Linked DNA regions of Homo sapiens: all the other regions are linked to region 3. The links come from fine-mapping of genetic effects on gene expression. A gene starts in region 3. Each other region holds a variant in brackets. All regions are shown on one strand. Distances are between the middles of the regions.

Region 1 (4,115 bases), 83 kb before region 3:
TTAGGTCCCGTAGGCCCCAGAACAGCACCTGGGAGAGGTTGGAGGGTGGGTGCAGAGAAGAGAGCCCCTTAGTCAAGGGAGCCAGCCATGGGGGTGCTGGACCATCCAATAGGGAACCGGGCAGTGGGATGGGCAGTAGTTCACCCCAGATTTCAAAGGGTGGGAGCAGGGCCAGGAGAGCAGAGGAGGGGCAGGCGTTCTCCAGGGATGAGGGTGGGGCTGCCCGGAGAAGGGGTGCAGGGTCAGGGGTGCAGACAGGAGGGCTGGGCATGGTCCTGGGACATGGGAGTGCGACTTGGTGCAGATGGGGGCAGGCCCTGGGCTGGGGCAGGAGCCTGGGTCTGCTGCTGGCTCCTGGTGATGGTGGTGGGAGGGGGATGACAAGCCACTTCCCCTCCTGGGTCCTCAGACTCCTCATCCAAAAGGGAAGGGCCACACAGAGCCCTCGCACCTCCACTCGGTACTTGCTGAGCACGGGCCGGATGCCCATGGGCACGGGCATGATGGGACCTCGGTCCACGTCCACCGGGCCATTGATGGGGGGCAGGTCAGCCTTCCCTGCTGGTCCAATCTGGGGAATGGGGGTCACAGGTCACACACTGGGGAGCCCAGGGACAGGGTCTCTTTCCCCATGAGTTGTTTGCCATGATCTGGGGAGACAGGGAAACCCCCTAAGGACCACGCCCCCAGCTTTGGTCAGGATGGGTAGGAGAGAGGCCCCTAGGCCCCAGCCCCCAGGCCCCAGCTCCAGGCCCCAACCCCCAGGACCTAACGCCCAGGCCCTAACCCCCCAGGCCCCAGGCCCCAGCCCTCAGCCCCAGCCCCCAGCCCCAGGCCCCAGCCTCCAGCCCCCAGGCCCCACCCCCAGGCCCCAGACCCCAGGCCCCAGCCTTCAGGGTCCAGCCCCCAGCCCTAGGCCCCAACTCCCAGCCTCCAGTCCCCAGGCCTCAGCCCCTCTTCCCTGCAGTCCCACCTGCAGCAGCTCGAAGGCCGCCAGCAGGTCTCCAGCTGTGGCGTTGCCACGGTAGATCTGGTAGTACTCGAGCTGAGGTGGGAAGCGGGGTGGGCAGTACGCCTCGTCTGCCATCTTCACCAGGGGTTTGGCGAAGGTCCGGCCCATGAAGTCAGCTTTGCCCTGACGCAACAGACAACCCAGAAGCCTCTTGGTGCTTGCTGTCCACACCTGTGATCTCGTTTGGTCCTTACCACAGCGCCATGAGTTGTTGTAAGGGACAGGTGTGATCACCCCATTTTACAGATGAGGAAACCAAGTCTCAGGGCCCACCAAAGACTTGTTCAAGGCCAAGCAGTCAGTAAATGGCAGATGCCCGGCTCAGGACTAGACATGAGGTCCTCCTACCTCTAGTCCAGGGCTATCTGGGCACCTCAGCAGCTGAGGTGGTATGTGAGAAGGTGGCTCGCTAACTCTCGGGGGTCACCCCAATCCCTTACTCCCTGCTCCAGAACCTCCACGGAGGATGGCAAGGCTGTTACTGGTTGTGGTAGGTGAGGGCAGGGGTCGGGGAGCCCTGGGGTGGGGAGGCTAGTGACAGCAGGACTTGCTGGCACACCTCCAGGGCTCAGTCTGTAGGAGACAGGAGGTGAGGATGT[G/C]CTGGCCTGGGAAGGGGTCAGGCTGCCGCAAGCAGGCAGGAGGAGCTAGATGTCAGCCCCCACTCCCAGCTTCCCAGCCAGCACCTGGCCAAGGAGCTCTGCAGGTGGGTGGCGGAGGTGAGGGCACAGCCTCAGCGCAGGTGGAGTGCAGGGAACAAGGGCCAGGTGTGGTGCTGCTGGGGTCCCTGGCACCAGAGCCCACCCATACCATGGAATCCTGGTCATAGATTTCAATGACAATGATGGGCGGATCGTCCCTCAGCTCATGAGCTTCACCATAGAGCTCCAGGTTGTCGAACACCAGCATCTGGTCCCAGGTGGGACACAGGGTCTCATTCAGCACCTGCAGCATGGGATGGGGAGACAGGGGACAAGTGACAGAGGGGGGGGCAGATGCACAAACAGAAGCCACCCCTACTCACTCAGCTTCCACGGAACCTGGGGGCAGGAGTGACAGGTGTCTTGATTCTTCCAGAAATCTTAAAATCAAGGCTAATATGAGGTTTGGCCCAAGCCCCCTGCCAATGTCCTCCTTGTCGTCCCTGTCTTGTGAATATAACCACAGCTAAAGCCCGTAGCCTTTCCAGTGTGACCCGCGTCTGCTGCAGTTATCTGCAGGGCTTCCCCTGAGAAACCGGGGCACTGGCTGACCTGTGGCTCCAGGCCCCACAGGCTCACAGGCCCCACAGGCTCCAGTCCCCACAGGCTCACAGGCTTCTGGTGCTCTCAAAGCCAGAGCCACTCCCTCCTCCCAGGCCCTCACCTCTGTGCACTGACTCTGATTGATGAAGAAGACGCGGGCAAAGGGGTCTGAGAGTCCGCTGCTGTCGGCGGCAAAGAGGCTGCGGGCCTGGTACATGTGCGCTCGGAGCTGGAACGCCTGCTTCTCTGTGGGGAAGGGCAGCCTGAGGTTCCAGGATGGGCAGCCCCTCCGGCCCCCTCCCAGGTGAGGCTTCGAGTGAGGGGTCCTCACTCACTGGTGTAGACCAGGCTGACGGGTGGGAAGGCATGCAGGCCCAGGCCCTGGGCTGCCTTGACCTCCTGGAAGCCACAGGGCAGGCCGCACAGGAACTCCTTGCGCTGTTTGCTGAGGCCCAGCCACAGGTACAGCTCCACCTTGGCCTGCACTGTCCAGCCTGCCGAGCCGAAGCCCCGCTTCCCTGGCAGCTGGGGGTGGGCATGGGGTCACCAGGAGCCTGACGGCTGCCAGGGCCCAAGAGGTGGGGAAGGGGCAGGGGCCGGCAGAGGCCCTGGTCAGAGCTGCCCTGCCCCTTCACAGCCATCCCGCTGGGCTGGGGTCCGGTGGAGGCAGGAGGATGGGCAGGGGGCCGTCATGCCCCCTTCCCCACCCCTTCCCCCACCTCCTTCCCCACCCCTTCCCCCACCTCCTTCCCCACCCCTTCCCCCACCTCCTTCCCCACCCCTTCCCCCACCCCTTCCCTCACCCCTTCCCCCACCTCCTTCCCCACCCCTTCCCCCACCCCTTCCCCCACCTCCTTCCCCACCCCTTCCCCCACCCCTTCCCCCACCCCTTCCCCCACCTCCTTCCCCACCCCTTCCCCCACCCCTTCCCCCACCTCCTTCCCCACCCCTTCCCCCACGTCCTTCCCATTCTTGGCTCTTCTCTGAGCACCTGCTGCTTGAAGGCCCCACCCTGTCACTCAGGCTTCCAGCCCCAGGTGGGGGCTGCTGCTCCCCTGAAAGGACCCAGGCCCCCATCCATCCTGCCCCCTCCAGCACCTTAAGGAAGAGCGTCTTGACCTTGGCGCAGTCCTTGCCAGTCTCCTCCTCCACGATGGAGAAGAGCAGGTCCTTGGAGGGCACACGGGCATAGGCGACACGCTTGTTGTTGCTCATCATCCAGATGAAGATGTCGGGAATGCTGTGCTGGGGCTGGGGGTTGGGGGGTGGCCAGGGGCAGTGGGTAAGGGGGTCTAGCCTCCTGATTGAGCCCCCTGATCCTGAGGGGCCCCAGAGAGCCAGCCCTGGATGAGGCAAAGCCCCGACCCCTTGGGCCGCACCTCGTCCGCCAGGAAGCGCAGCTTCTGCAGGAAGTTCTGGCACAGCCTCAGCTTGTCCCGCACCGTGTGCCGCTTCACCTGGGCCCGCAGCATCCTGGCCTGCTGCCCCATGTTTTCCTGCGAAGGAGGGGGTGTCAGTGAACCCAGCAACTGGGGGACAGCTCGGGCCATGACAAAGGGGGTTGTGACACCTTCTCACAACCAGGCCCTCCCTCCAGCCCCCGCCGTCCAGTTGCGTCCTCACCAGCTCCCTCATGCAGGACTTGAGGCGCTCCCGGTCAAGCCTGGTGCGGGATGAGTGGCCCTGGTCCTTGTCAGCGAGGGAGAGGAAGCGGCTGGGGGTAGGGCGAGCCGGGGTTTAGCGAGCCTGACCAGCAGGGGCTCTGTAGATTCTTCCTCATCTGCCCAGCCCTGGCAGGGTCCCCTTTGTCCAGTTCCGCCTCATCCTCCCCCCACCTGCCGCCCCTCCCTTCTCACCAGCAG
Region 2 (4,115 bases), 97 kb before region 3:
AATGGCGTGAACCCGGGAGGCGGAGCTGGCAGTGAGCCAAGATTGTGCCACTGCACTCTAGCCTGGGCGACAGAGCGAGACTCTGTCTCCAAAAAAAAAAAAAAAAAAAAAAAATTGGGTTACAGTCTGGGAGAAACATGGCTGGGAGCAGAGGTGGTGTGCAAAGAACACAGGATTGGAAATTTGGAAACCTTGGCTTGAGTCCCGGCTCTACCCTAATTTGCTGGGTAACCTTGAGCAAGCTACTTCACCTCTTTGGCTTAATGTGGAAAAGTGTAAAATAGTCATTTCTAGTTCTGAGAGTCTATTCTGTCATGAAAGCTTGAAAGTTGCTGTGCATGTTTGTGTGGGCTTAAGTGTGTGCCTGTGTGTGCTTGAGTGCATGTGTATGCACTTGTGCGTGGCACATGTGTGCATACATGCTTGTGTGTGTTTGTGTGCACATGTATGCATATTTGTGTTTGTGGATGTGTGCGTGTATATGTGTGTGTGTGCACGCGCCTGCCTAGCCCTTGGTCCAGAGGAAGAAGTAAGAAATATCAGACCCAGGAGGCCACTGGGCTCAGGCCCCGAGGATTTTCTTGACCAGGTAGCCAGGCACAGAGTAGAGGAACAGGGCGAGGAGGAGGAGCAGCAGCAGGAGCAGCAACAGTTTGAGGAGCAGCCAGCGATACGTGTGCCACAAGAAGTAGCGAGCCGACTTGAGAGGGTTCAGGAACCAGATGAAGCTCGTGTCGGGCCGGCTGGAGTATGAAGGGTAGAGAGCGCAGAGGAGGGACAGGGAGGAGAAGGGATTGGGTGTGGCGAGGGGCCAAGACCAAGAGGGAAGCTGTCCTGGGCTGTGTGTGCAGTTCTAGGCACCCCTCTGGCCATCAAGGCTGGCCATGGCCCCAGAGGCCACCACTGGAGCTGGCTCTTCTGCAAAAGCTAGGAAGGGAAGAGCATAGTTTCTCTCCGCTAGATGGGGCCTTTCCCAGGGAAGGTCCTGCTCTCCAGTATTCCTAGCCCATCCTCTGGTTCAAAGGGACGTTGTGGGATTCAGGGTTGGCAGAGGGCAGGGAGGAGGCTCCCCTGTAATGAGGCTGTGGCCCAGGAAGAGATGGGGTGTCTGGGGATCGTCTCCTTCCTGTTCCAGCGCCTCCAAGAGCCAGAGTGGGGAGGGGCTGGGCCGGCAGGGCACTCACTTGGGTTTCTCTAGGGGGTCAGGTTCATTGCGGGCCAGGCCCACTGGGTTCTTCTCTGCCTCCTCTGCTGTCAGTAAATGCAGCTCAGCCTCCACCTTGCCCTGCAGAGGACAGACAGGTCCCAGCGTCCAGGCTGCGTGCTGGGCCCTTGGCACCCCAGCCAGTCCCAGCCCTGCCTACTGCCCGAGCAGGAAGGGGTGCGCACCGTGAGCTCAAACTCATCGTTCTCATTGCGGGCCAGGAGGGGCCACCAGCCTTTGACGCGCTTTTGCTTGAAGATGGACACGAGGGGCACGTCCACCTCCCCGGTGGCCATCTCCATGGTGCACTGCTTGGCTGTCTTTGCGCCCCGCGGGAACCGGTTCAGGTCCAGCTCGATGGCCCCTGTGGCAACCTCAGTGTCAGCTCAGAGTGAACAGGGCTGGGGTGGGGCGGGGTGGGGGTGGGGGTCTGGGCTCCTCGGCCCCTTGTTTGCTGAGTGCAGACCTCCCTGAGCCCACATCTCATCCTCCTGCCTCACTCCCAGCAACTGGCCTCAATGCAGGCATCCTCGTGGGCTTGCTAGGCAGCCCCAGCCCCCA[T/A]GCTTTACTCAGGTCCTTCTTTCACCCCAGAGGGTCTCTCCTGGGGTCTCCCCTGCCACTCCCTGCCATGCATCCATTCTGTCAAAGTCCTGCTAATCCCACAAGCTTTTGCAGATGCAGATTAGAGTTTTAGGGAGAATCCCTGCTTTACAGAGAAGCAACCTGAGGCCCAGGGAGGTTTCCCGACTCCCTTAGGGAGCCTCTCCCCTCCCCCATCATCACTGACTGCCCCCTCCTTGGTGTGTCCAAAGCTTGTTGTCAGCCTGGTTATGACACTGAGAACATCTGCCTAGGGACGGTTAGGTGGGTCCTTGGGGGCGGAACCCCGTCGGACACCCCTGGCTCTGATGGACTGGAAGCAATGACCCCTTGTCCCCCCAAGGCAGGGCTCTCCCTGTCCCCGCCAACCCGGCCCCTGCCTCTTCTCAGTTCTGGATCCTGAACCCCCATCCCTGCCCTGCTCTGCACCCAGGAAGTCGTCAGCGGAGAAGTGGTCCGCATCCCAGATCTGCAGGGTGAGCCGCGCGGGGATCTTGTACTCGGTCTCGTCCCAGGAGAACATGGACTCCTTCTTGGAGATGACGATCTTCTCCTCCGCCGCCAGGTAGTCGAAGGGGAACAGGTAGCGCCAGTTGAAGTTGCCCTCGCCAGTGAGGGAGTGGTAGTGGACGTCTGTGTCCTGCTTGTCCTCCTGCTGGCCCTTCAGCCACCTGTGGGCGCCACATCTCCAGACCCGCAGCCAGGCTGGTGGGGCCTCTCCCACCCACAGCCACCTTCCCTCTGCCTCCTCTCCTGCCCCCCGGGAAGCAAGCCCCACCCAGCTCAGTCCCTCCCATGCAGGGACTGCTCACCCACCCCCTCACGAAGATGTCACTGGACTTCTCCCCTGTGAAGAAGTCGTCGTCCTCCAAGACCACCTCATCTGTGTTCCAGATGATGACCCGCAGCTCGTACCTGGGCCCAGGGAGAGAAGGCTGGTTAGCAGCCCCAGGTGGGGGTTATGCCAGGGTGCCAGGGCTGGGATGGGGCAGGCGGAGAGAAGCCCTGGGGTCTTGGGGTCAGCACAGGGCCTGGGCCAGGCTGGGGCTGGAGGAGTGGTTTGGGGTTGGGGGAGCAGAGGCATGAGTGAGAAGGCCCACCAGGCACATGGCTGTGGGCGGTGGGGGTGGGGTGAGGGGAGGAAGCCACCCTCTGTCTCAGATGCTAGTTCCAAGAGAAGTCTGCATTTAAGCCCAGTAGCCAGCAATGGAAGCCCATGGAAGCTGTATGTCCCTGTCCCCAAAGAGGATTTTCCCCTCAAGGTTTAATTGTAATTATGAATGATGTAGTTCATTTCAATCATTAAGAGTGAGGCTGAGTCATTCACTAAAAATTGATCTGAGCATGGCTCTCCTGGGATTGCAGACAGGGCTGCGAGCCCAGAGTGGCCCAGTGAGTTGGGTGCCCCCTAATGACAGGCCCTGGAACAGCTGACTCATGGCCTCAGGTTTCCAGGACATTCCTGGCAGAATTTGCTGCATGATTTGCTGGGGCCAGCGCCAAATGGAAATGCAGGGTCACTTGTCATAAAGAATTTCAAGATGGCAACATAGGAGCATGGAAACAAGAGTGGGACCCTGTGTGGCTTCCTCCATCCCTGAAGCTGGCCCTGAATCCAGTCACTGTCTGACAGCTGGACTTGAACCTGCCGCTTTATGGATGGGAAACCCGGGTTCTTTTCACTCTACCACCTCCTGCCTCTTCCAGGCACTCACTCCTGGATTCATCACTGGCAGGCACTCCAAAGAAAACTTGGCGGAACATCACACTAGCCTGGATGTGAGGATGACGCAGGGCCGGCTCCCAGGGGTTCTGTGTGTTGTGAAGGAGTGCGTCAGTGTGGGCATGTGTGTGGGTGTCCGTGGGAGTGCTATGCTGTGTGTGTGTGTGTGCATGAGATGCATGTGTATGGGCGCGTAGACCGTGTAGATACAATGCACCGGAGTGTGCTGTGTGGGGCTTGTCTCGCTCACTGATGCAGGGTGGAAGGCGTTGTCCTGCCTTAGCACGTGGGGACTCTCCAGGGCAGGCCCTAAACTCTATCGATTGGTTGGTCAGTTTCTCCCCTATAAGGCCCAGTGGCCACACCCAGGCCCCAGGGATGCCAACTGGCCAAGGCCATCTGGACCTGAGCCCCCCGCAGGAAGGGTTGGGCCGTGGTGGGAAGTGGGTGGGGTGGGCCGGAAGGGAGTAGCGCTGGGCCCCAGGCCGCTCACTTCTTGGGCTTCCGAGGTGAGATGTCCAGAGGCGTCCCAGGGGCTGGCATGTCCATGGGGAACATGTCCACCCACAGCTCCAGGCGGCCCTGAGG
Region 3 (4,115 bases):
AAGGTACTTTCTGGAAACTGCTTGTCATCTGCCTATTCCTGCTGCCCAGCCCCCTTCCCCAGGAGCTCTGCCCATGGCCACCTCCTGCCAATGTGGAGCTTGGAAGCGATTTCTCCACTCAGTCCAGAGAGCAAGGGTTGCAAATAAACTAATTCCTGTGTGGTCAGTGAGGCTAAAGGCCCAGCCCTTCACTGCTCCAAGGAGAAGATGGGTGTCAGACAAGGTGCTGGCCCCCAGGTGGCCCAGGAGCAGATAAAGAGCTTGCAAGATTGAGTACTCAGGATGAGGTCCTGAGAGCTGGGACCACCGTGCCTCAGCTCCTCCGTGAATGCCACGCGCAGTGTTCTACCCCTGAACCTTGGTTTCTCGGCCTGCAAGTGGGCCTGTCCGGTGCAGCCTGGACCGTTCCAGCACAGCTGCAGCAGGATGGCAACCTGTAGCTTAACCGCCCCACACTATGCTGCCCGTGGAGCTCAGGGCCACATTTCACAGATGAAAGGACACATTTGCTTTTTCTAAAGCCAGCATGAGCCTGCAGGTGGCACACAGAGGGAGATCCAGGGTGCTGCAGAGAAAGCAGTCAGTGGGTTGGGGTGGGAGGCAAAAGGCAGCCCAGCCCACACCTCCCTCTCCCTCCTGCCTAACCTCCGCCTGCCGGCAGGGCCACTGCCATCACCTCCACCCCTGCCTGTCCCTATGAACACAAGCTGCAATGTGGGCATCCCAGGGCCTCTGGGTAGGTGATGTGGGTGCCCCAGGGCTCTTGCTGGAATGTTCTGCCAATGGTCTCTCCCATCCCTTCCAACAGAGGTGCAGACACTGTGTCCAGCCTGGGCCCCAAGGCTCACTTTGCTCTTTAGTATAGGGGGGTCCTCTCTGCCCCCTTCTCACCACCTCGTCCCCATCCCACTCTCAGACCCCTCTCTCGGGAGAAGGGGCCATGTCTAGTGAGAAGTACCCCCAACCCTCAGGGCTGGGCAGCAACCACATGGAGAGGCAGAGGTGGGTGGTGAAGGACAGAGTCAGCCTGGCCCTGCCTTTCCCCACTTAAAATGCTCAGGGGCTCCGCTGTCCCCGGGGTCAGGTCCAGCCTCGCCTCCTTGCCCTGCTTGGCTCTCTGGCCTCCGCTCCTGCACCCTCTCTGAGCTGTAGACACATGGAACCTCTTTCAGTTCCAGAGTTTCAGCTCCTCTCTCAGCTCTGGGCACACTGTTTCCTCTGCCTCCTCAGTCCTTACCTCCTCTCCTAGCTCCCACCCGCTGGTCCTTCGGGTATTAGCTGAGTGTTACTTCCTCCGGGAAGCCTTCCCTGACCACCGGTCACCAGCCTGGGTGAGGGTGCTGCTTCTGTAGCTTGCATGCTGCACCCCCACCTTCTGTCTCACATACCTGTCCTGCTTGTTCCACGCCTGCCCAACAGATGCAGGCTCCTTGGGGCTGGGGCTGGGTTGTGCTCAGCTCTGTGTTTCTACCCCTATCCTTGGGACACAGTAGATCATAATAAATGGTCGCTGAATACAGGAGTGAAAAGGATGAGAAAAGACCAGACAGAAGAGAGGCGAGGGGCTCCCGGGGTTCCCGCCCATGAATAGATCTAAAAGAAGCCAACAGTGTCCCCCATCACTCTGGGGCCCAGGGAGCTACTGGCTGCCTGGTTTCTCCCAGTCACCCTGGGTGCCCCAGGCTCCATACCCGGCCCCCACCCTGTGCTCAAGGAAATCAACCTGCAGGAGAGGGAGAGAGAGAGAAGGAGGGGGTCCTGGGTCTCCCTGAGCTCAGGGATGTGGTCCTCACTTCTGCCTCCCCAGGCAGAGGGCTCTGTGCCCTGCCCGGGGAACTGGCATGTTGGCAAGCACAAGGAGACACAGGCATGGAAGAACAGGGGACCCTGATTTTCCAGAAATCACAATGGCCAGTCAGTCCCAGGCAGATGACTACCTGTGAAAAGGCTCGTCGCCCCAGCCCCTGCTAGAACTTTTCCCACCCATCCTCCCAGCCCTGTCCTATCCCCGGCCACCTCCAGAGCATGGGCTGGTCCAGCTCTCAGAGCTGGCGTCCCTCTGAGACAGCGGCTTCCCTACCTCGGAAAGTCACTTTGGCGATCCGGTCGCCCCTGCCCCGCAGCTCCGAGACTGTCTTGAGGTGGATGAGCAAGGCCATGCTGGTGTGGGCTGCCTGGCACTGCCAGGCAGGAGCAGCGGGAAGGAGCTAGCCGGTGGAGCACGGCTCACACGCCTCTCTCTTCTCTGCCGCTGCCTCCTCCTCCTCCTCCCGACCCCCCTCCGATGCTGCCCACAGAGACCAAGGCAACCAAGCCGAGCTAAGCTGCTCCTGCAGCGACTCACAGAGCCTCACAGCCCCCGCCCCTCCAAGTTGTCAGCCCAGCGTGTGTGTATCGGTGTGTGCGTGTGTGTGTGTGTGTGTGTGCACCCAATGTGCAGCCTGGGAGTGCGGCAGAGTTGGAATTCATTATTCAGCAGCCGCCGGCTCCCAGATAAAGCTCTGTCCAGCTTCAGGTGTCTTCTCCCAGCTCCTGGAAGGGAGGCTCTGCCCACCCCTCTGCAGGGCTCTGCTGCTTCCCTGCTAAGCAAGCCCTGCCACCAGTAGTGGGCACAGAGGAGTGGGCATGAGCATAGGTAGGGTGGATGTGGGGCGGGGGGCACTCCCACCCACAGGGGCACACTACAAGAAGAAGGGAATGTATTTGTCCACCTACGCCCACCTCTTCCCTGCTGGAGACTGTGCCCCCAAGAGGCTGGGCCCTGAGCCCTGCCCTGGGATCCCTGTTTCTGAATCTCAGGAAGCAGAGAGGCTGGGGCTGCTGCCTGAGGGGAGGCTCAGGACCAGGCCATGCATGATGGAGATGGCTGGTTGTGGAGGCAGCAGAGGCTTATGTGCTACCAGGGGCCATGTTTAAGGATCCAGGGCACTAACCTAGCCCCACCCCAAGGCTGGGGGTCAGGCAGGCTAGCGAAGGTAAGCCAGGCTGATGTTTGCTTTCCAGCCAGAGGAGCAGAATTGAATGGCCTTCTGCTGTTATAAGCTGCTAGGGGCAGGAGAAGGGATGTCTATAGGGAAATTTCTAAGGACCAAAAGAGAACTGCCCCCTCCTGTCTTCCAGCAGCATACACCAAGGAAAGGGACGCTGGGGGCCAGAATCCCTGATGCTGGAATCTGTGCAGGGTCATCTGCAGCCTTGTTCTTGCTATTCATTCTTGGTGGAATGCCCTCCACCCCACCCTGGACTCAGCTTGAGTGCCTGCTCCTGGAGGTGCCTCTGTACCCGCACCCCAGCTGGGTTGGGGTCCTCCTCTGTGCTGCTCCTGCCTCCTCTCATCTTACTGAGTCCTGGGGCTGCTTCCCTTGCCTTTTCCCCTCCTGACCTCAGGAGGGCCCTGGAGCACAGCATCCCTCTACCCCAGAGCCCCACATGGTATCCTGTGCACCGTAGGATGCCCAATTACTGTTGAAAGGATAAAAGAGTGAGCTCAGGGATCTACCTGAAACAGAGTCTAAAGGTTAAAAAGAGAAATACTAATTTTTCACAGCATGGTAACAAGAGGTTACTTCTTTTGAATTCTGCATTCCAAATAACCTACAGTATGTCCCAAGAGCCTTCTTTCCTCCTTCTAGATATTTCCTTGCTACTGTGCCCTATTTTTCTTTTTCTACTTACGTTTTTTTCCTTTGCACTTTTTCCTAACCAATTCTTGCTTACCTTTCTCACATTTATCTAATCATATTGAATTTAAAAATGTCTTAGAGTATTCTGTTTATTGAATACAAGTATGAATGCTAAATTTTCAAAAGCTAGATAAGTTTAATGTCTTAAAAAAAAAAACACCTAAATTCACTAGCATTTTCCATCCATGAGGTCATCAGGTGATCTGTGTTTTTAAGGCTTGGTGACTACAAGGTACAACAACAACAACAGAAAATATCTTCTTCCTTGGTTCTCTGGAGGTCCTCCCCTGAAAGGAGTGAATTTCATGAGGCCTCTTATAGACCCTGTGCATCTTTAGGAAAAAGCCCATGATCCTGCCCTAGCCAAGGCATTGATCTATGCTGAATCTCACTTTCCACATCCATAAAATGGTAGCAATTCCACTCAGCAGC
Region 4 (4,115 bases), 49 kb before region 3:
AAAAAGCCTTTCTGCCTGATTGCAGCACCAGTTCCCAGAAAGCAGTATGCCTACTTCTCTTGGCAAACTGTAAAGGAGAGTTTTGAAATAAATGTCAACTTAATCAGGGAATTTTGAAGATTATCTATTTGTCTGAAAGACTTAGATTTCAAAAAATGTAATTTGCTGTTGAGGTGTCCGTTGTCCTGGCCTTTTTTTGTTTTCAAAGTAAAATTCTGCATTTGGTCTAGTTGAGTTCTACAATTACCAAAAACAGGATATGGTGAGAAACAGACAAAGAAAACAAGCCAATAATCAACTCAGTGAAAACTCACTTTACAATCAAATGGCTCCTTATTCTTGGGCGTATTAAAGCTTGAGAAGTGAGAGCCAAGGGGAGGCCAGTATCCCAGGACCCTCTGAGGATTTAGAATCCGTTTGAGTTTCCTGTGGCTACATTCACCATGGTCAGAATGAAATGCACCTACAATCTAGACTGGTATTTATCTCTAGAGGAAAAAAATGCTAAAATTAGTTCACTTATTGTAAACTATAAATCTGATGATTTCTCCGCTCATTTTATGGCCCAGATTTAGAAGCGTGTTGCTGTGTGGTGCACACAGGGTCCTAGGTAGAGCTTAGTATTCATAATGACTTGGGAACATTCACCAAACTAAATTTAGTGACCCGAGTGTTTCATTAATTCAGGTCTCTGGATTATTCTGAAAGCTAATAGAGACCTGACCATAAATGAGCTGCAGGTCGAGTCCATTCACTGCCCAGGGCTTCTGCCCCATGACTGGCTTCAACTGGAACTACTAGGCTCATTAGCTCAGGCCTCAGGTAATCAATCAGGATAAAGACTCCTGTCTATGAGAAATAGGGTCTGTGGTCCTTCTTTGCATTGCTCAAACAGCCCAATTTTCAAAACCTCGGAGCATGTTATCCAAGCGCCCCTAAATGGGTTTATTTTAAAAATTTTCCATGCCCCAAGGCACAGGGAATTTCATAATTTTGGTCTTTACAGGTGTCTTTGAAAGTGTGTTGAATGTCAGTTAGTTTTTGAATAGCTTTCCATAGGTGGGCAGGATAGGCTGACCCTTTATACAAGAACCACCCTGTCTCCAAACTGGCCCGTTTGCACATGTGCCCACGTTGTACCAGAAGGCTTGGGGGACCCACACACACTTGTCCTGACCCCAGGATTGTCAGGGAAGCTGGCTCTTCAGTTCTTGCTGGCGGCCCAGCCCTTTGCAAGGCTCAAGCAAGCAGCATCATGGAAGATGATGGGTGTTTTCTCATCTCCCCAAACCAGCCTATCCCAGAATGTCACACACTATGAGTTCTTTCGTGGGTTGAATCTTGTTTCTCTACTTCAACTTAACTTCAACTTAAATTTATTTCCATTTATCTCTTCTCAGTGGAGATAGATACCAACCAGCTTTGCCACACATTAACATTTCAGAGATTGAAATCTGTCTCCACAGTTTTCTCTCCTCCAGGCTAAAGAGTTTAAATTTGTTCAATCTCTTCTTAGAAATCTCATTTTCCTATTCTTTCAATAGTCCTATTGCTCTACACATAATAATAATAACAATACTATATGCCAGTTTACTTTATCTCATGTGCTAATTAGAGATGGTAAGAAATTAGGACAGAGAAGTGCTAGGAAACCAGTATTTTGGTGGACCTACTATGTGCTGGCACTGTGAGGTACCTCTTACTCCAACTGTAGCCAGTCAAAGGGATCAGGCCAGTCTGTGTCCCTGTGGGTCTGGCCTGGGACAGACTGGGAAGCTGGGCATCAAGAAGGGCCTTAGAGCATCGCTGATCTCAGGCAGAGAAGCTGGGGATGGACAGGCTGCTTGTATCTCATTCATATGCCCTTTACATCTAAGCATCTATGGAGAAACCTGAACCCTTGAGGACTCCCTAAGAGGACTCCCCAGCTCAGCATTCCCCATCATCGCCACCCACCCTGGATTCAGTTCCCTGGCTCTGAGCCTTGACACATGCTCTGCCTACGTGTCTTCCCTTACTGGGAACCTGGCAAACTCCTCCATCCTTCAGGTCTCTGGGCTGGAGCTCTTCCTACACAGCGCCATTTCCTCCATCACTACAGAGTTAACACTGCATCATCATTGCTTTTGCTTGTGCGTAACAAATG[C/T]GAGTTAGAACTCATACCTTTTTTTGAAGCAATGAATGAGGCTGTGAGTTCCCCAGGATCTTAATGCCAGTGGATATCCCAAGCCCACACCAGTGTTGATCAGTTCAGACCCCTCAACACACAATCCTGATATTTCCATGATATCTTCAGATGAACTAATTCTTAATATATTGAGGCCACAGTTTTGAGCAAATCTCTTAAGATCTCTGGGGCTCAGGTTGCTTATCTGGAAGATAAAAAAGACCACACTCCTGGCTTTTCAGCTCTCATTGGTATGTTTGGAGAATTAGATTAAATTTAGATACAGTCAAGTTCTCTAAATTTCCTGGGTCTATGGTGAGCTCTGGGTCAGAAGTCAGCTTCCCTGTCTTCTGGTTCCAGCTCTGCCCCTGTTCTGAGACAGATTTGTCATCTGTAAGAGCAGGTGTTAACCAGAGGCCTCCTCCAGTATGGTCCACCTTGGCTACCACTGCCCTTATGAGATCCCGTAATGCTAGAGTCCTCCAGATGTCAGTGTGCTTCTAGGGGTGCCTACAAGACCCATTCACAACTCCCAGCCTTCGAATCTTTCCAGACCCTTGTGACCAGCCCCTCCCACCTGCAGGACCCTTCTCCTGTCCTCTCCAGACAGCACCCTGACCTCATTTTTCCAGGAAGCCTTTTGGGGAGATGAAGATAGAGAGGGCCGCCCAAATGGTGGCCTCTCCTAAGCTTTCTGGGGGTCTCCAACTCCACCCACGACCTGCAGCTGCAAAGGGTACCCAGAGTTCCTCCTCCTTATGCCTCCAGCTGCCTGGCCCTACCTCGCCCCTGTTGGGAGAGGGATCCCTGAGGTCCTCATGCCCCTCTCCCCTTAGCCTTTAGCTGTCCCCTCCCTCCCAGGGAAGCCCGAAGGCCACAGGATGGGGGCTGAACAGTGGAGGAGGAACAAGACACGGAGAGGAGGATGGTCACCCCCGAGAGCCCAGAGTGGAAACCAGAAGGTCTGGCCACCTCCCCCGCGACCCTAACCCCTCCTCATCCCTCACCCCCGTGGCCAGGTGAAAAGGCCTCCCTGGGCCTCCATGACCCGTGCCAGCTCTACCACGACAGCCCACTCCTGAGCCCTCTCAGCCGAGCCCATCCCGCCCTCCACAGCCTGTGGGGAGGAGGCCTCTGTCTCCCCAGAGACGCTGTTGCGTCTGCCCTCGCCTGGGACACCTACTTGTGCTCGTCATCTCTGCCTCCCTTGGTCTTCTCTCTGCCTTTGCTGAGTAGGGGGAAGAAATGAGGAGACAAGGGGACACGTGTGAGGGGCTGTGGACCAGAGACACTGGCCTCAGCCCCGGCCCCACGGGCCTGCACGCTCCCCGGGGGCCTCCTTGTCCCACAGACCTCTCACCCCACAGCTTCGCACGGTAGCAAGCCTAGGTCTGCAGAAAAGGGGTCCCATGGCCCTGGGTTCTGCCTTGGGGGAGATGGGAGGGGCCCACAGTGCTGGGCCTGGGTGGCCACTATTCCAACCCCAAGCTCTGATACCTCAGGGCCTCAGCTCATCGCCCCTACCAGGCTAAGATCTGATGATTCCACAATGTGGGTCGCAGCTTCCTCAGGGAACACAGGGTTAGATGAGCCTGGCCACCCTCCCGGCCTGGGCCACCCTGCTCCTCTGCCCACCGGCTCCCCTGCTCCCCTGCTCCCCTCCAATGGGGTGGGAGCTCCCAGGCTCTGGGGGCCTCTAGGGGAACAGTGGGCTAAGCCTGCTCTGTGAGGGTGAGGCAGGGCTGGGGGTCCTGCTATGGAGTGCACACGGGTGGTTGGGGGCAGTTCTAGGGGTGTAGGTGGGGCGGTAAGTGAGCTACCACTCCAGGGCTCAGAGCAGGGAAAAACGGCCCCCCTATCTCACTTTAGGGAGGCTTCCAGAAAACTTTTCTGGAATGTTCTCTCAATGCTTTCCCAGTGCTGTGGCAATGAGGATGAAGACAGGAAA
Region 5 (4,113 bases), 72 kb before region 3:
TGTCATCGGGGTCAGACAGGATGGCCCACTTGTGATGGAACTGGTGCTCTGCAATGATGAGGGGTGGGCACTGCACCAGACACCCCCACCCAGAGCGTCTCCCAGTGCTCAGGGCAGGCCAAGGGGTGGCAGAACCAAATGCTGTCTTGGTCCCTAGAGTCCCGGGACCTGGGGCCACAGCTCTGCCTGTCCCTAGCCCAGGGTGTGATAGAGTCTGAGGTCCTCTGGAGCTGGGGCAGTGGGTGCATGGCCTGCCCATGGACATATATCCCATGAGTGGTGTGACTTGGAAGCACGACAGCCTCCTCCTAATTGGGTTTTTCTGCCTGTGGCCTCTTCTATGGCCCCACCCCAGTCAGCCAGCCTTCACATAGCTGTGAAGGACACAGCTGCACACAGGGCCTTCCCAGGTGGAGGCTCATGCTCCTGCTCCCCATCTTCAGCCCCTCTGGGGCTTCCCAGTGCCTTGGGGTGAAGACAAAAGGCATGGCCTGCAGGCTCCTGATTTAGTGCTCCCTGACTCACTCTGCTGAGCCCACCCAGCCCTGTGTTCCTCCTTGCTGAACAGGTGTTGCGGTTTTATATGCCCTTTTATACCTCCATGCCTTTGCATCTGCTGCTCTTTGAGCTTGGAATGCCCTCATTCCTGTTCTCTCCACCTCCACCTGTCTTTCTCCCTATTCAATTTGTAAACTTCTACTCATTTTGCTCAAGTCTCTCCTCCTCCATGCAGCCCTCCCTGACTTCCTCGGAAGAGTTGATCCTGGGCTCTTTAGTGTTTGTTCTCTGTGCTCTCCATGCACACCTCCCATCTCACTGTGCTGATCTGGGTATTGTTTGGCTCTGATTTTAGACTGAGAGTCTCCTAAAGACAGGGATTGTCAGTCTCATCCCAGTGTCCCATGACCTATGACTGTGTGGAGGAAAGGACGGATGTCAGGGAAGGAGGCGCTTTAGGAAGGATTTGCCCCTTCAGGTTTACTTTAAGCCCAGTGGGCAAGCAAAGGGAAGCGCATCACTGTGCCTTAGGAATCTGCTTCCCGGGATGTTAGGTGGGCACTGAACTCTCAGGGACTCAGCACCTCCCTCCTTCACTCCCTCCTCTTCCACCTTCTACCGTAGCCCAGGCCTGTGTCCTGCAAGCCTGTGGCCCTGGTGGGCTCCCGGAGATGTTAGGGGCTGTGTACAGAGGTTGGCCTTTCTGGGAATAGCCAGGCCACCTGTGTCTCAGAAAAGATAATGCCACAGTAGAGTCTGAAGAGAGGGACAAGCAAGGTGAGAGGGCAGGAAGGCACGTGGATGAGGAGTCACTGGAGAACCTCAGCCAGGCTGGCAGGCCTCCAGGGAGGGGCCATGTCCCAGGAATCCCAGGAGCTTCAGGTCTTGCCAGAGCAGATGTGTGTCGGATGAGGAGATGGACAGAAAGCTCAATGAATGGGTGCATAAATGGGCAGAGGGATGGGTGGTGAGCTGCCTGGCCGGCTGAGAGATAGACGGACAGAT[G/A]GTGAATGGATTACTGGATAGAAGGAGCCATTAATCTGTGGACAGGTGGGTGGGTAGATATATGGATGGGTGGGTGGATGGGTGGATATATGGGTGGGTGGATCTGTGGATGGGTGGGTAGGTGGATGGATCTGTGGATAGATGGGTGGGTAGATATATGGATGGGTGGGTGGGTGGATGGATGGATATATGGGTGAGTGGGTGGATCTGTAGACAGGCGGGTGGGTGGGTGGATGGATTCACGGATGGGTGGGTGGGTGGACCAATGGATATATGGATTGGTGCGTGAATGGATGGATACATGGATGGGTGGGTGGATCTGTGGACAGGTGGGTGGATGGATTTGTAGATGGGTGGGTGAGTGGATGGATGGATACAGGGGTAGATGTATAGAGGTGTGCATGGTTAGATGAATTGGGGACATTTAGCAAAGAAAGAGAATACGGTTCAGGAGGAATGTAAAATTTACCTTCAAATTTAAAGGCTATTTTTCTTTTTGTCCTGAAAGAGAGACGTGTGAAAGTGGGTGAAGGTTACAGGGTGACAGATTTTGAGATGACCTAAAGAAAGTGAAGATATCTAAAATAAGAAGTAGTGAGTGCCCCATTTCTGGGAGGACTAAGCAAGGTTAGAGGACCAATCAGAGATGGTGCTGTGGGGGTCCCTACATCAGGTTAACACTTGACTCATGACTTCTGAGGCCCTTCTAGTCCTAATACTGTGTGATCTCAGGCTAGAGATACAAGGACCACATGAGATCCTGAGCTATATGCTTACCAGCCTGAAACATCATTTCACCTCCCTTCAGCCTGGGGCTGACACCTGCCAGTCAAGGGTAGCCCAGCTGGGGAAGTTGCTGCATCCCAGACCTCCTTTATGATCTATGAGGATGAGTGTATGCCCCTGACTTCCTCTATGATCTATGAGGATGAGTGTATGGCCCGTCCTCACCCCCAACAGAGAGTAGCAAACAGTAAACAGTTTCCTGATGTTGCATCTGGTGGTACAAATGACAAAATGTGGTCCTGCCAGGGTGAGAAGAGGTTCTCTCGGGAAACCCCTTCCAGTTCCAAGAGATATCGACACCACCCAAAGCTTCCCAGCAGCACCCAGGAGTGTCTCTGGGAGCATGCTGTCCAACAATGCCCTGGCTGGAACCAACGACTCATCAAGAAGTTCAGGCCAAACTGGAGATATCAGAGTAAAGACATTGGGTCTCAACTCCAGGACCCATGTGACTTCAGGCTCTCCTGTCCCTGGGAGGGCACCAGGCTCAGGGCTGGATTCAGCAGAAGCAGCAAATCTCGAGCTAGGTTACCCAAGTGGAGACCTCGGCCCACATCCTGTTTCTGCCGCTTACTCACAATGTGGCCCTGGACCAGCTGTTTAAGCCTGCTGAGCCTCAGTTTCCTTATGGTGAAATGGGAATGATGCCTATATGGGGTCGTGAGGGTGAGGCCTGCTGGGACAGTGAGCTTAGCCCAACATCTGGCACTTACTGATGCCCTGGTGGTTTCCTCACCAGGACTTTACTACCCAGAAGCCCAGAGGTCCATATTAGACTAATATCTGCCTTTTTCTCCACCCCCTGACTTTCTCTTGGCTCTCGGCCTCAGGCCTGCCAGTGGTACCAGGGCCACTGCTCAGCCCTGGGAGGAGCTTATCCTCAGGGATGCCAGTCATTCCAAGCAAGTAGTCCACGGCTATGCATGCTTCCTGGAAAGCAACATGGCAGGAGGCCGACTCTTCCCTGCTCCCCATGGCACTGATGGTCAGCAGGGCTGCCCTCCGCTGAGGGCTATGGCATGTGTGGGGTGGTGGCAAAGGCACTGGCCTGGGAGCTGGAGACAGGGGTGCTACTCCTAGATGGTGGACAAACCCCTTCATCACCTTGGGCTTCAGTTTATCTTCACAGAGGCTGGACTAGATGTTTTTCAGGTCTTGGGCAGCTTGAGTGTTCTATGATCTTGTGATTTTTATGTGTATAATCTTGGTTTTGGACTCAGATTCCCTGGTCTAAGTCATAGTTGTAATGTGCACCAGCTGGACGTCTCTTAGGTTGAACCACAAGCGATCGCCAATTTGTTCAACCTACTAGTTTAGTGGTATCTCTAAGCCCCTTCATTTCTCTTAGCCTCATTTATCTCATGTGCAAAATGGGAAGAAATGCTGCTGCCTACATTACTGTTTTGTGAGGGCCCAATGTGACAATTGGGTGAAATTATGTTCTCACTGTCAAAGCGCCTAATGGGGTCATTACAGCACTCTGAGCAGTGCATTCACTTCAGGGACACAGGGTGGTCCCTAACCTGCCCACGTGGTGAGCTGTCATCTGGCAGGCTGAGGCACTTCCTCTGCCTGGCCCACCTCACAAGCCCTCTGGGCCACCCCTTGGGGTTCCCTTGCCAACACCATTGCTGTTACCCTACAGGACGCCACGGAGCACACATGGCTGCCCAAAAGCCTGGGGCTCTTGTAAGAAGTGTTTTCAGAGACCAGAGTCCCTCAGAGGCCGCCGCACTACATCTGGCATTGACCAGCATCACCGCTTTCAGATTGGATAGTGTGGCTCAGTGAGGCTCTGGGGACACACAGCCTGACTTCACCCCC

Which allele goes with the higher level. Positions count from the first base shown, and alleles are read on the strand shown. Sizes are in standard deviations (SD) of each study's normalised expression. Not every link is listed here.
For the expression in transverse colon of the gene that starts at base 2,344 in region 3, allele C in region 1 goes with a lower level than allele G (small effect, 0.28 SD a copy in GTEx).

The links. PIP is the estimated chance that this variant, and not a neighbour inherited with it, causes the effect.
Region 1: its variant is the best candidate, but not a certain one, in a credible set for the expression of OTOF in transverse colon (GTEx, PIP 0.50).
Region 2: its variant is the best candidate, but not a certain one, in a credible set for the expression of OTOF in whole blood (TOPMed, PIP 0.82).
Region 4: its variant is the best candidate, but not a certain one, in a credible set for the expression of OTOF in whole blood (INTERVAL, PIP 0.64).
Region 5: its variant is the best candidate, but not a certain one, in a credible set for the expression of OTOF in whole blood (TOPMed, PIP 0.61).

The regions. Positions count from the first base shown.
Region 1 is chr2:26,473,540-26,477,654 of GRCh38, forward strand. It overlaps OTOF (otoferlin), which reads right to left. Exons shown (of 47, transcript NM_194248.3): 19 at 4,110-4,115; 20 at 3,877-3,967; 21 at 3,633-3,749; 22 at 3,352-3,504; 23 at 2,589-2,778; 24 at 2,375-2,499; 25 at 1,820-1,954; 26 at 974-1,135; 27 at 452-571; 28 at 1-28. Among named protein-coding and RNA genes, the nearest start is that of DRC1, 74 kb to the left of the region's middle. RefSeq lists an enhancer at 4,020-4,115. The variant G/C (reference allele first, on the strand shown) is at 1,612.
Region 2 is chr2:26,459,463-26,463,577 of GRCh38, forward strand. OTOF (otoferlin) reads right to left here. Exons shown (of 47, transcript NM_194248.3): 41 at 4,021-4,109; 42 at 2,621-2,719; 43 at 2,234-2,475; 44 at 1,390-1,568; 45 at 1,185-1,285; 46 at 546-743. The coding sequence ends at 563. Among named protein-coding and RNA genes, the nearest start is that of DRC1, 60 kb to the left of the region's middle. RefSeq lists enhancers at 999-1,704, 3,390-4,115. The variant T/A (reference allele first, on the strand shown) is at 1,766.
Region 3 is chr2:26,556,413-26,560,527 of GRCh38, forward strand. OTOF (otoferlin) reads right to left here and starts at 2,344. Exons shown (of 47, transcript NM_194248.3): 1 at 2,081-2,344. The coding sequence starts at 2,159. RefSeq lists enhancers at 1,705-2,498, 2,499-3,291.
Region 4 is chr2:26,507,355-26,511,469 of GRCh38, forward strand. The region is part of intron 5 of OTOF (otoferlin); the gene reads right to left. Among named protein-coding and RNA genes, the nearest start is that of OTOF, 49 kb to the right of the region's middle. RefSeq lists an enhancer at 3,995-4,115. The variant C/T (reference allele first, on the strand shown) is at 2,147.
Region 5 is chr2:26,484,586-26,488,698 of GRCh38, forward strand. OTOF (otoferlin) reads right to left here. Exons shown (of 47, transcript NM_194248.3): 12 at 1-48. Among named protein-coding and RNA genes, the nearest start is that of OTOF, 72 kb to the right of the region's middle. The variant G/A (reference allele first, on the strand shown) is at 1,504.